Regions from separate parts of the Homo sapiens genome. Here regions 2 and 3 are each linked to region 1. Evidence: fine-mapped expression QTL. A gene starts in region 1. Each other region holds a variant in brackets. All regions are shown on one strand. Distances are between the middles of the regions.

Region 1 (4,245 bases):
GGTACCTCTCCACACCACCACACGTGATCGTAATTGTTTTTAAGTTATTGGGTTAGTTTTTTCTTTTGCCAAGATGAGATTTGGCTGGACATCTCCTTTCAGGAGAACTCTAAAAAGTACCCACTTTAGGTCTAACTTTTCATTGACTACTCAGAAAGCTTCTGGTGACAGGTATCATTTCTACCAAAAGTAAAGTCCGGGTGCAAGTCAGAACTCTTTCATCTTTGCTAAACCAGAGCGAGATGTTTTCTTTCGACTGTTTCATCTACTTAGAATTAATAGCATTTCTCCTCCCGCCTCCCGGCCCCCGCCCCCCGCTCCCCGGGTGGTGAACGCCTGAAGAGGGAGGCGTGGTCCCGCGCACCTTGTCTCCGGCCGCGCCACCGGCACTCACCTGGCTGCTGCCGTGCTCCTCGCCCGTCTCCGGGGCCCGAGACTCCGCGGGACTCCGCGCCGGCTCTGCGGGAGGAGGCGGCGGCTCCAGCAGCTGCTCCAGGCAGGCGGTGCCCGGCAGAGAGGAGCTCTTCTGGTGGCACAAGTGCGCCCCGGGGCCCTGACGCCGTGCACCCTCATCTCGGGCGCGGTCCCCCCTCGGGGGAGGCTGGGGCGAGGAGGACAGGGAGGATGAGGCGGAGGAAGAGGAAGGAGCTGAGTCGGGGGAGCGTCCGCCAGGAGGCGTCCCTCCCGCTGCTCCCGAGGCCGCCGCGGGCCCCTTTACGGCGGGGAGCAAATGCTCGCGGATCCGGCGGCGTAGCGTGGACCCCTGCTCGGCTCTGCCGGCGCCGCCGGGCTCCAGGGGCTCCGGCGACGAGCAGCACAGGTTGGGCTGCGAGGAGGAGAAGACTCGGTCCAGCACTTGCTTCCGCTTCTTGAAGCCGCTCCACCTGCTGCCTGCACCACTCCCCCTGGCCGGTGCATTCCCTGTGCCCACCGGGGGTGGCGGGGAGGGCGACGGGGTGTCCGCAGTGCGGCGCTCTGGACCCCCAGCGCGCCCGCCCCCGCCGCCCTTGCTCCTGCCCACCCCCAGCTGCAGGTTCTTCCAGAGCCGGGCCTGGAAGGAGGAGGACGCCGCCGGCGGCTCTGGCTCGCCCGCCGCGGCAGCCCGGGGCTCCATCCTCCACCCCCTGCTCCTCCTCTCCCCTCCTCCTCCTCCTCCTCCTCCTGCTTCTCCTCCCTCTTCGGCTGCACCTCCTCCCGGGTCCCCGCGGCGCTGGCGGTGGCGGCGGCGGCGGCGGCGGGCGCAGCAGCAGAAACCGGGAGTGCCCAGCGACTTCAGGCCAGCTCGGGGGAAAGAAGCGGCCGCCGCCGCCGAGGCTCTCTGGCCTCGGGACTCCGGCGCTGCCTCTTCCTCCCGCACCTGCTGGGGTGGGCTGGAGCCGTAACCGAATCCCGGCCGCGGCGCCTGCAAAGTTTTTCCCTCGAAGCTCCGCGGCTCCAGTCCACTGGCGTCCCCCAGGCCGCGCCCTGGCTCCCTCTTCTCTCTGACCGAGCTCGGGAAGCTGCACGCACCGGGGCGTGCGCGTCCAGCTGCGCCAGGGACCGCACCCGGCGCCCTCTGGGCAGCACCTGTCAGCGGCGGGGGCGGCTGCCTCCAAATTGGGCGCGCACGCGGCTCACACAACAAGGCGCGTCTGGCTGGAGACTCCGGGGACCAGCAGTCCCCCTGGGGCGCCCCGGGACCATCCTCCAGCTCCTAGGTGGGAGGGCCGGTAGGAGCCGGGTGGAGCTAGGTAGGGCCCGAAGCCAGCTTGCTCCCTAGGATCCGGCCACAGTTGCCCAGGCAGCTCGCTGTGCGCTGGCCGCTGGCCGCGCTGGCGATCGTCTGGGTCGGATGAAGCGAGCTGGAGTGGAAACTATGTGCCCTCGATGGGTCTCGTGGGGGCGCCGATCGTCCACACTGAGCGATGAACCCGACGGAGTTCTAAAGCTGAAGACGTCTGCCCCCGCCCCGTTGCGCTCCCTGGGTCCAAGACGAGAGTTTAATTTCTTCTGTCTTGACTTCATCCCCATCCACCCCTCCCTTTTCTTTATTTGCCTCTGCACTGGTCTCTTATGATCAGGTTCTAGCATTTCCGGAGTCTGACGATAAAGCCAGCCCTTAAGTTGCAGGGAGTTTACGGTGGACGAAGATGGGTGATGCGCACTGCCTTTGATCCGATTCGGCACGCACAGAATCTTGTTCTTTTCATTCAAGCGCATTTTTTCTTTGGTTACTTCATTTGCTTGTTGCAAGGCAAACGGAAAAGGCTTTTTAGCTCATTCAGACTTTGCTTCTCCCAAAGCTGCTCAGCCAGGGTCTTCTGATTCTGCTAGGAGAGACTTCTGAAAGGCCAGCAACACAATGCCTCTTTCGTCCTCCTAAATGGGGAAAACGGGAGAGTTCCCTAAGCTGCGGTAGCACACTGATCAGTCTTGTCTAGCTAGCAGTATGCTTTGGAGGTGTTACCAACCTAAGTTTTTTGTTTTGTTTTGTTTTTGTTACCTTTATAACAAATATTTATTAAGCACCTACTATATACCAGGCACTGTGATAGGCTCTGGGGATGCAGCTGTGAACAGGGCATCAGGGTCCCACCCACATGGAGCTTATTGTGAGGGTGAGGGTTGGGAGGTGATGCGAGACAATAAACAGAATTTCTAATATGCAAAAGTCCCATGGAAACAGTTAAGCAGGGTACCACATAACAGAGTGGCTACAGAGGAAGAGCTTCCAGACAAAATGCAGGACACCCAATTAAACTGACTTTCAGAGAAACAATGAATAATATTAGTATATGTATGTCCCAAATATTGCATGGGACATACTTATACTAAAATACTATTATTTATCTGAAATTTAAATTTAACTGGGTGTCATGTTTTTGTTTGCTAAATCTGGCAGCCCCATATGGAGAGGTTTTTGGTTTTTTACATTATGTGTACAGGGAGAGTCTCTCTGAGAAGATAAAATTTTGAGTTAAGACTTAATGAGGACAGAGAACCAGCTATTGACGGATCTGACTGTAGAATTTCAGGTAGAAGGAACAGCAGATACAGAGGTCCTGAGGCAGGAAGCAGCTTGACTGGGCATATTCAAGGACAGAACGATACCACTCCAAATAGAGTAGAGCAAGGTGGGTGGGGTTGGTAAGAGATGTAGTGAAACAAAAGGTCAGCTAAGGGAGTGGGTCCTATAGCCAGAGTGAGAGTCCATGTTTCCTCTAAATGAAATTGGGAGACATTAGAGGTCTTTTTTAATCGTGAGGGTAATGTGATGTGATTTACTAATACTAATGCCAGGTATTAATAAATAGCCTCACAGGGCTATTTTGAAGATTAAGTGGAAAAAGGACTTAGCTCAGTGCCTGTATATAGTTGATATTATTGTTATTTGGTAGACCCAGTATTTCCCAAGTATATGAATACTATGCTTTGGAAAAAGAGCAACGTGAATGGAGAAACACTGGGCTGCATTTAAATAATATTATTGAAATGACAAGATTATAGAGATGGATAGTGGTTGCCAGGGGTTAGCGGTGGGGCAAATGTAAAGGATCAGAATAAAGAAGTTTATTTGTTATGATGAGACAAATTTAGATTGTGGTGGTGGTTACATGAATGTGTGTTATACACAGGATAGGACTGCATAGAACTACATACATATATGAATGCACATAAAAACGTGACATCTGAATAAGATAAGTTGTACCAATGGCAATTTCCTGGGTCTTAATATTGAACTATAGTTATGTATGATAATATCATTGGGGGAAATTGGGTGAAGGTCACACAGGAGCTCTATGTAGTATGTTTGCAACTTCCTGTGAGTCCATAATTATTTTAAAATTTAAAGTATAAATAAAAGCAAACAATAATAAAGCATGTTTTTTTGAAAAAATTGTGTGCTGCTGAAAGTTTTCCTTTGGAACCTTAATAATTAGAGAATGAAACAGTCTTAGAGCTACGATGGCCTACCCTTTCTTTGTAGCTCTGTTCTGGCCAACCCCACCTAATTCCTGAGGAAGCCTCTGAGAAGCAAATGAGGGAAAAGTCAGGACTGGTGAGGCAGAGTCCACATTAGGGCAAGCTCACAACTGCAAAGGTAAACACAGAGGCTGTGAAGCACTCTCCACACAGAATAAGAAAAGCCAACCACATTTGCCTTTATGGAGGTACCTCCCCACCGGGTGAAAGCAGAAGGGTTGGCATTTTTCACTGGCTTTTCCTTCCTCTTCACTCCAGTTTCCTTTCTCTGTATTTTATTTC
Region 2 (4,245 bases), 600 kb before region 1:
CCACCATACCCAGCTAATTTTTTTGTATTTTTAGTAGAGACGGGGTCTCGATCTCCTGACCTCGTGATCTGCCTGCCTCGGCCTCCCAAAGTGCTGGGATTACAGGCGTGAGCCACCACGCCTGGCCCACAAACTCAATTTTAAAAAATTCTTAGTTATTTCAAGTAAGTAGGCAGAATATATTAATTCATAAATATTTCAATTCTGTATAAAAGCTAGTATATTTCTGTCTCTAATTAGAGTAATGAAAGCCAGCGGCCGTGCTGAGTGCCTGTAGGTGAGTGCCTGCAGGTGAGTGCCTGTAGTTCCAGCTACTCAGGAGACTGAGGCGGGAGGATTGCTTAATCCCCAGAATTTGAAGCTGTAGTGCATTATGGTTGCACTTGTGCATAGCCACTGCATTCCATCCTGGACAACATAGTGAGACCCCTTCTCCAGGGGCAGTGGGGGGAAGGTAATCACCAAATAGAAATTTTAAGGCCGAGCATGATGGCCCCTGCCTATAATTCTAACACTTTTGGAAGCTGAGGCAGGAGGATCCCTTGAGCCCAGGAGTTCGAGACCAGCCTGGGCAACATAGCAATACTCTGTCTCTAAAAAAAAGTTAAATTAGCTGGGCATGGTGGCACATGCCTGTGGTCCCAGCTACTCGGGAGGCTGAGGTGGGAGGATCCTTAATCCCAGGAGGTCGAGGCAGCAGTGACCTGTGATAACCACTGTACTGTAGCCTAGGTGGCACACTAAGACCCTGTCTCAACAACAACAACAACAACAACAACAACAAAGAAAGAAAAGAAAGGAAAAAGAAATTTTAATTACTTTTGAGCGTAGCCAAGGGTTGATCATAGAAAACTAAAAAATCCTTGTTTCCTAATAAAATTCCTACATAGGTTATTATTTTGGAAAGAACTAGATCCAACAAAATTCTAAATGGTATTTAAAAAGCAAAATATTATGCATATAAGCTACATTTGATTTAAAGTTTTCCAGTTTTATTTTGGCTATCTTTAGATATTAATATTTAATAATAATTATTTATTATTATTAATAAGGCAATATTAATTTAGATATGTAGATATTAATATCTATCTTTAGATATTAATATCTTTAGATATTAGTCAAATTCTGTTTTGCAACAATCCTTTAAGGATGTTTTTATTCCTTATTTTGTTTTCTGTTGAAGAAAGACTTGTTTTCTGTTCAAGGCATTATCAGAATGGAAATTACAAAATACCAGTTGTATGTAAATCATACATATAAAATGTGCAAATGAATCATACCTGTTGGGCATAAGACTAATCAAAAGAGCTTTCCTAAATGAGGATCAAAATTGAATTAGAAAAAAATAATTATTTTTAAGAAGGTGTTTTTCTGGTTGTTCACATGGTATTGACTTTGACACAAAACTAGTTTTCTTAATATTTTATTATGTTCAACCAAGATAGAGTGGCAACCATAGTGATGCAACCAAGAAAATATAACCAAATGTAATAGTGAAATGAATCAAATAATTTCTCTTTACTGCTGTTTTTGTAGTTGAGAAAATAATGCAATATTATTTTTCAACAGGTATATTCCTATTTACCAGCCTTGGGGAAAACTGGTGTGCTTGGGTCTGGAAAGATTCAGGTGTCAAAGAAAATAGGACAGCGGCCTTGTTTTGACTCTCAGAGAACCTTACTAATGCTGAATGGTACTAAACAAAAACAAGTCGAAGGGCTGCCAGAGTTACTGTAAGTGATGCTGATATCCCAGCTGTGCTTTGTTTTGGAGTACAGCTCTTTCTCTGATGCATTTCTTGAACTTAATGGTTATCTGTGATACTGTCTGAATTATACTGATTAGATCAAAACTCAATTTTAGATCTATTTGATCAACATTTTCTGTTTCTGTAATTCAAGGTACATGCTTTCTAAGTGCTTCCCAAAAGAAATAAAACTGCTCATCAAATTATTGATGAATTATTGATGAAATACAGTTCCACACAATTTTTGCCCTATGATTTGAATGACTACTTTGCCATAATATAGATGGGATTTCAGAATGCATGGTCATATGAGATATCCTGTATCATTATAGTAGTTTCCCCAAAATGAGAA[A/ACCT]CCTCTAAAAGTATAAGGTGTATAAAAGTGTATGTTGTATAAAACTCAGAAAGCCTGAAAGCTTCTGTGAGAGGAAGAAGAGAATAGAATCAGAATATGAAAGTAAGAATGGGGAGCAGAGGCCTGCTTGATCTTAGCTTTCTGCTTTATTCTCTCTGCCAAATATGGTTTAACTGGTCTTTTTCTCTTTATTTGACATTCTGTATTTATAAATTTAGTGAGCAGTTGGGGGAGTAGGACTAATAAAAGAAAATTAGTGCACTGAAGTTTGTTTCTACACAGTTGAAATAAATTTTAAAATTAGAAAGCAGTAAAGATTGAATGAGTAAGGGAGTTTAAATTAAAAGGGGGCTAGACTTTTAAAAAATACCATCTAATGTATGCTGGCACGCCTTGCTGAAAAACAAGCTTTCATTATTTCTTACTTTTCCTTTCAGAGACCTGAACCTTGCTAAATGTTCCTCATCATTAAAAAAATTGAAAAAGAAGTCAGAAGGAGAATTGTCATGTTCCAAGGAGAATTGCCCCTCTGTAGTTAAAAAGATGAATTTTCACAAGACTAATCTAAAAGGTATTCCAAGTATTTAAATTAATTTATGCTAAGAACTTTTCATGGTTATAGTCAGTACTTGCAGGTTTCACACATTTGCCCTGATGAATACTTGAACTTAAATATTGGACTAGGTCCAGGAAGTACCTTCTTGGATAACGTATTATTTTCTTGAACTGTCATTTATGCAAAGAAAGTGATTGTTTAATAACCAGTATAATAGAGTATTCTTTCCTTTTTTTCCTCTCCCTGCCATTACAGATATGAAACACAGTGTAGCATTCATTGAGCTCATTCCAGACTTGCCCGCCTTACTTTTCTATTCCATCTCAACCTGTGCTGCTTAGGATCAGTGTCTTCTGATTTGAAAGTATAATTCAGTCTTCATCTCTTTCAGTCCTAGACATTTTGTGAACAAAGAATGAAGAGTAGGCTATGTTACATAGCTGTGTTAAGCATATGGGCTCTTTTCTTCCAGGCATTGAGCCCAGACTATGAAATGTGTTTGGCTTTTGGTTCTAACTATACTGGAACCTAAGTACCTAAAGGATGAAATAACAAGAATAGCATAATAATTCACTTTGGCACCTCTTTTACTTAGCCACCTCATAACTTGTAAATGGATCTTCCAGAAGTCTATACCTGGCCAAAGTAAATTGCTGAGTCTTTTTTGTTGTTGTTGTTTATGAGTTATATCTTGTTTTTAATACAAATATTAACATTATGACACCCATGGAAATAGTGACAGTGAAGCACTTATATTTCAATGTGATATAAGTTCATAATTGCATATTACAGATTCAAAATAACTGTCCATTTGACTTGGAATATGAAAATTATATTAGATGAGAACTCAGATATTAATTTCACAAATCAGCGTTCTTTTTCTTTGTTTTATTGTTTCAGAAAGTAAAATGAATATGAATGATTTTAGGCAGAACAGCAGAAGGAACTGGGAGAGAGGAAGAGAATTGAGATATAGTAGAGAAAAACTTCAAAAGCTTTTTATGCATGTAAAAAAATGTTTTTGTAGAAGTTAGAGATAATCTGTAAAACTGAACACTGTAAAAATGTGCTACTTAGTATTTTATAGTAAGAACAAATTAGATTCAGTATTTCATTTTGTTTCCTAAGCAGTCATTTATAGTAATTTTTTTAAAATTCCCCTTAAATAATCACTTATATCTTATTAATCTTGGTTGTAACAGTGATGGATATAGACAATTTTAGCCAGAAGGCATTAATTGCGTCTCTCCTAGAAAAAACCTTGTCATTTCTATTTGTTACTCTTGTTCAGCTTTAAATGGTACTAGGGATTTTTTTTTTTTTTACATCCGTGTGTGTGTCTGTGTGTGTGTGTGTGTGTGGTGTGTTTATATTAAGATTCCTCCATTTCTCCCTCTCTCTGCTGTTGTAGCCAAGCCAGACAGCCTATTGAGAAGCAGCAAACCATCTGTTAATGGATTTGAAGTTCTGAATTATACTTGAGTGTGTAGAGGCACTCATGCTTAGCCAGAAACATTCATTTGAATTAAGCTATAAATGCTGTATAAAAAAGAGCCATACATTTAATGTAGGTTCATGAATAAATTTAAG
Region 3 (4,245 bases), 540 kb before region 1:
TGTATTTTGTATTTTTAGTAGAGATGGGGCTTCTCCATGTTGGTCAGGCTGATCTCGAACTCCCAACCTCAGGTGATCCGCCCGTCTCGGCCTCCAACGTGCTGGGATTACAGGTGTGAGCCACCGCGCCCAGCCACCAATAGGTAGTTCTTGACTGGATTACATCCCGAGATTTGATACCAAGACTAAAACTGTGTTCAGCTCATTTCCCAAAATACAGTAAGGGGCTTTAACATTGGATTCAAATCCTGCCCTGCCTGTGCTGTGCAAACTTGGACAAGTCCAAGGGCACAGCCTTAACACAGCATTTCTTGTCAGATAACCATTGCTTTTAAGATGGTTGAAACAACAAGAGAAGGAAGACTCCAGAGTAGTCCTATGACATGCTCCCACCCACAGAGAGTAAGAATGTTTCCCAGCCACTTCTCATGACCATAGTTTTCTTACTGGATACGCCTGAGTGCAGCAAGGTCTAAGGGGAAGTTTAGGGCTTCAGGTTTGAGGACTTGCTTAATAATGCCTTTCTGTCTATAACCAGTATGCCCACAAGTGAACAAACCTTTTCCCAAAATGGGTCAATTATAATGTTCTGGGTGGAGATTCCATAGCTGCTCCACAGCTCGGAGAGTGTGCTCTTTGGTGCAAGATGTGAGGAGGGATAAAGGAGCTGCACTGGCTTTCCTGTTCTCTTACAGAGTGTCCACTTGTTTCCATTTCTTCTGGGAGAATGGGGAGGAGGCATGTGTAATACATATATTTGACTTCTTTTAGCCTCATTTTCACTTTGTCTCTTTTTGTCTCTTATTCCCATTTTGCAGATGAGCTGGTAGGGGTAGAGGGCAGTTAGGCGATATGAAAGAAAGGTGGAGAGGAAAGAGTCATTTTACTGTTCTCCATTTGAGTATCTTCAAAATCATCAGGTATTCTTGCAGAGAAAAATTAAGGGAGGCATCATTATATTTATTTCTAGTGCCTAACACTGAGCCTGACACATAGGTGCTTAATAGAAACTTGAAGAAAAATGTGTTGAAGAAATAAGTACTCATTGAAGAAAAACATATTTACAGAAGAGAAGCAGCACAAAGTGCTCGGCTGCAAGCAACAGAATATTCTAGTAGTAGATTAGGTAGTAGAGTTAATTTTCCTCATGCAATAGGAAGTTCAGAAGTCAGGTTATTGATATTGTACCAGATGTTCAAAGTGATCATTTGGGCCCTAAGAACTTTCTGTCTTTCCATTTCTTCATCCTTATGTTTATTGCCTCATGGTGTTAATATGGCTGCCCCAGCTGTAAGCATTGCATTCACATTCAAAGGTAGATGAGAGGGGGAAGGATGGAGTCAGCAATATCTGTCCTATGTTATCAAGAAAGTAAAAAACTTTCCCAGAAACCCCCGGAACACATCCTTTTCCAGCTCTTTGGCCAGAACTATATTAAAGAGTCATTCATAGATACAATGAAACCTTAGAAAACTGAGGATTTAGGCAGAATCTTTGTCATTATGTACAAAGTCCGTCTTCCATTAGCAAGGGAAAATGGGGAAATAAACACTGGGTAGACAATATCCGCCACACTTGACTGGAGCCCTTTCTGCCTCCTACTCCTTTCTGAATACTCAAATGACTCACAGCCCTCTATTAATTCTTTTATGTCATTTATTTCCCCTCC[C/T]AGATTGAAGGCGTTACTCATGTTTGACTCATTTTCTCCTATCTTTTACACGGTAAACCCCTAATAAGTGCTAATATTATGAATGTTTTGAGATATATGTAAAATGATGCTCTTTAAGTAGTTACAGAAAGAATAAAAACCATGACTTCATTTGTATATTTGTGCATTAGCTACTACTCCATTTTAAATACAGTAGGTAAAGTAGGCTTAAGTGAAATTTTACAAAGGGGAATAAGAACAAATATAAACAACAAATATAAGACATTTTTATAATGTAATAGTGCAGACAAAACTGAAATTCATCTCTTTAAAATGAACTTAATTTCCTGTTTCTTTGTCTTCTCATGCATTCCATGTCATAAAGATAGGTAAATTATTCTAGAAATACTAATATTTTTCAGGTTCAGAAAACTTCAGTGGATCTCAATGCACATAAGAAACTGTCTACATTCCTTGCTCCAGTGCTCAAAACTCCACAACCTGGTCCCAACCAACCATTCTTACCCTGTCACTCACAACTCTTGCGTCAGTATATTTTGCTGTGGCTAAATTCTTCTACAAACTGCCCTCTCAAGGCCTCTTGGGAATTCCACTTCCCCTTGACCTTGAATACCTTTAAGTTCCTCTTTTGGCTTGTTTGAATCTGACTTAGCCTTCAAAGTCTAGCTCAAGTATCAGGTTGATAATTAGATAATGTAGGTTTCCAGCTTTTTTTTTAGGCTGGAGATACAGTTTGCCTTTATCCATATCTTCTGCCTGTACTGGATTTTGTTATTTCAGTTGTCCAGGAGTTCTGTGTGTGAACTGCCATCTTTTCTGTTCCATGTAATATCGTAGCATAGCACGACAGCAGCAAGTATTTTTTCTGTAATGGAAAACTGATTGCTACAATTCTGACAATGGTCATGCTCACCATTTTAACAGTTATATAATTATATGTTACCTATCATTTCCTATGTAGAAACTGTATTAAGAACCATCATTTAATCCTCATAATCTTATGAGGCAAGTATTATTTTTGTTCCCATTTTGCAGATGAGGAGACAGAGGAGCTATCTCTTGGATAGCTTCCAATTCAGAAGTAATTTTTTTTTCTGTAAAGGGCTAAATAGTAAATATTTTAGGTGTTCCAGGCCACATAATCTGTGTTGCCGCTATTCACCCCTTCATTGAAAGCATGAAAGCAGCCGTAGATAGTAAGAAAACAAATGGGTGTAGTTGTATGCCAATAAAACTTTATTTACAGTTGGCTGAATTTGGCCTGTGGACTGTAGTTTACTGACTTCTGTTCTAGCCCAAATAATCCTTTTCATATATAAAGCTAAGAGAGGTAAAGTCCAGATTGCAACAGAGGCGGATCTAGAATCGAGGTCTTCTGATTGGTGGGTTAGTGGTCTTTAACTATTATACTAACTGGATGGGGGTAATTATTCTGTAATAAATTGAGCTTCTGAAATTATAAGGAGGCCAGGCATGGTGGCTCACGCCTGTAAACCCAGCACCTTGGGAGGCCAAGACAGGTGGATCATCTGAGGTCAGGAGTTTGAGACCAGTCTGGCCAATGTGGTGAAATCCCGTCTCTACTAAAAGTATAAAAATTGCTCGGCGTAGTGGCGCGCGCCTGTAATCCCAGGTACTTGGGAGGCTGAGGCAAAATAATTGCTTGAACCCAGGAGTCAGAGGTTGCAGCGAGCTGAGATTGTGCCATTGCACTCCAGACTGGGTGACAAGAGTGCAACTCTGTCTCAAGAAAGAAACCATAAGGAAGTTTTGATACTATTGACAAATTATACTGTTTGACCCAGATGATTAGGTTTCTGTAATTTGATGTGGGTTTTATTCCATCTTCTGTGTCTTCCAAAGGTATGTGGACTTTTAAACTCAGTTTCTTCATCTTTTATAGGAAAGCATTTTCCAGACTAGATAAACACATGCCAGTTGCATGTACAGTTAGGACTCAGAGCTTGCTAAAGAGCACAGGGTGACGACTGTGGAACTACTGAAACATTGTCGAGACAGCAGTCCGTTAAGGCTTCTCAGAGTAGTTCTGAGTACATGGCTCCCTGCCAACTTTCTAACCTGGCCCCCTAGTTTACCAGGAAACATTTTGACATGGTTAAATAGGTACATACATCCTTTGTGGCTACAGGACAAAACCCATGATTGCCTGATCTCTTTAGTCCCATGCTCTGAAAAATTTAGATTCAAATCTTTGACTGGAAATAAAATTTCTGTGGGGCAAGTTTTTATTCTCTGATCTTTGTTCTTTCTATTAATAGACTTGGAATGTAATGGAAAATATAGTTAACATTGCCTTGCACATTTACTTTTTGAGCATAGTTATCAGCACTCTAAGTTTCTCGATTGTCTCAGGACACTGATGATACTAATAGATTCCAAAAAGACTTTCTTGAGCCAGAAGCACTGTAGCACTACATTTCCAGCTCTCTGTTGAGTCTTCAAACTAAGTAGAAAAAGAGAAGCAAATTGAACCTCATATATTTTACTATCCAAGAGGATATTACCTTGACTGGACACGGTGGACTGACTACACAGACTGGCCACCGTCTGCAATA

Alleles and levels. Positions count from the first base shown, and alleles are read on the strand shown. Sizes are in standard deviations (SD) of each study's normalised expression. Not every link is listed here.
In carriers of allele T in region 3, the expression in neutrophils of the gene that starts at base 1,633 in region 1 tends to be lower than with C alone (moderate effect, 0.68 SD a copy in CEDAR).

Evidence for each region. PIP is the estimated chance that this variant, and not a neighbour inherited with it, causes the effect.
Region 2: its variant is the best candidate, but not a certain one, in a credible set for the expression of MCTP1 in whole blood (INTERVAL, PIP 0.52).
Region 3: its variant is the best candidate, but not a certain one, in a credible set for the expression of MCTP1 in neutrophils (CEDAR, PIP 0.58).

The regions. Positions count from the first base shown.
Region 1 is chr5:95,283,462-95,287,706 of GRCh38, forward strand. It overlaps MCTP1 (multiple C2 and transmembrane domain containing 1), which reads right to left and starts at 1,633. Exons shown (of 23, transcript NM_024717.7): 1 at 395-1,633. The coding sequence starts at 1,114. RefSeq lists silencers at 722-841, 922-981.
Region 2 is chr5:94,686,937-94,691,181 of GRCh38, forward strand. SLF1 (SMC5/6 complex localization factor 1) reads left to right here. Exons shown (of 21, transcript NM_032290.4): 17 at 1,570-1,733; 18 at 2,537-2,670. Among named protein-coding and RNA genes, the nearest start is that of SLF1, 70 kb to the left of the region's middle. The variant A/ACCT (reference allele first, on the strand shown) is at 2,100.
Region 3 is chr5:94,744,675-94,748,919 of GRCh38, forward strand. All of the region lies in intron 19 of MCTP1 (multiple C2 and transmembrane domain containing 1), which reads right to left. Among named protein-coding and RNA genes, the nearest start is that of SLF1, 130 kb to the left of the region's middle. The variant C/T (reference allele first, on the strand shown) is at 1,670.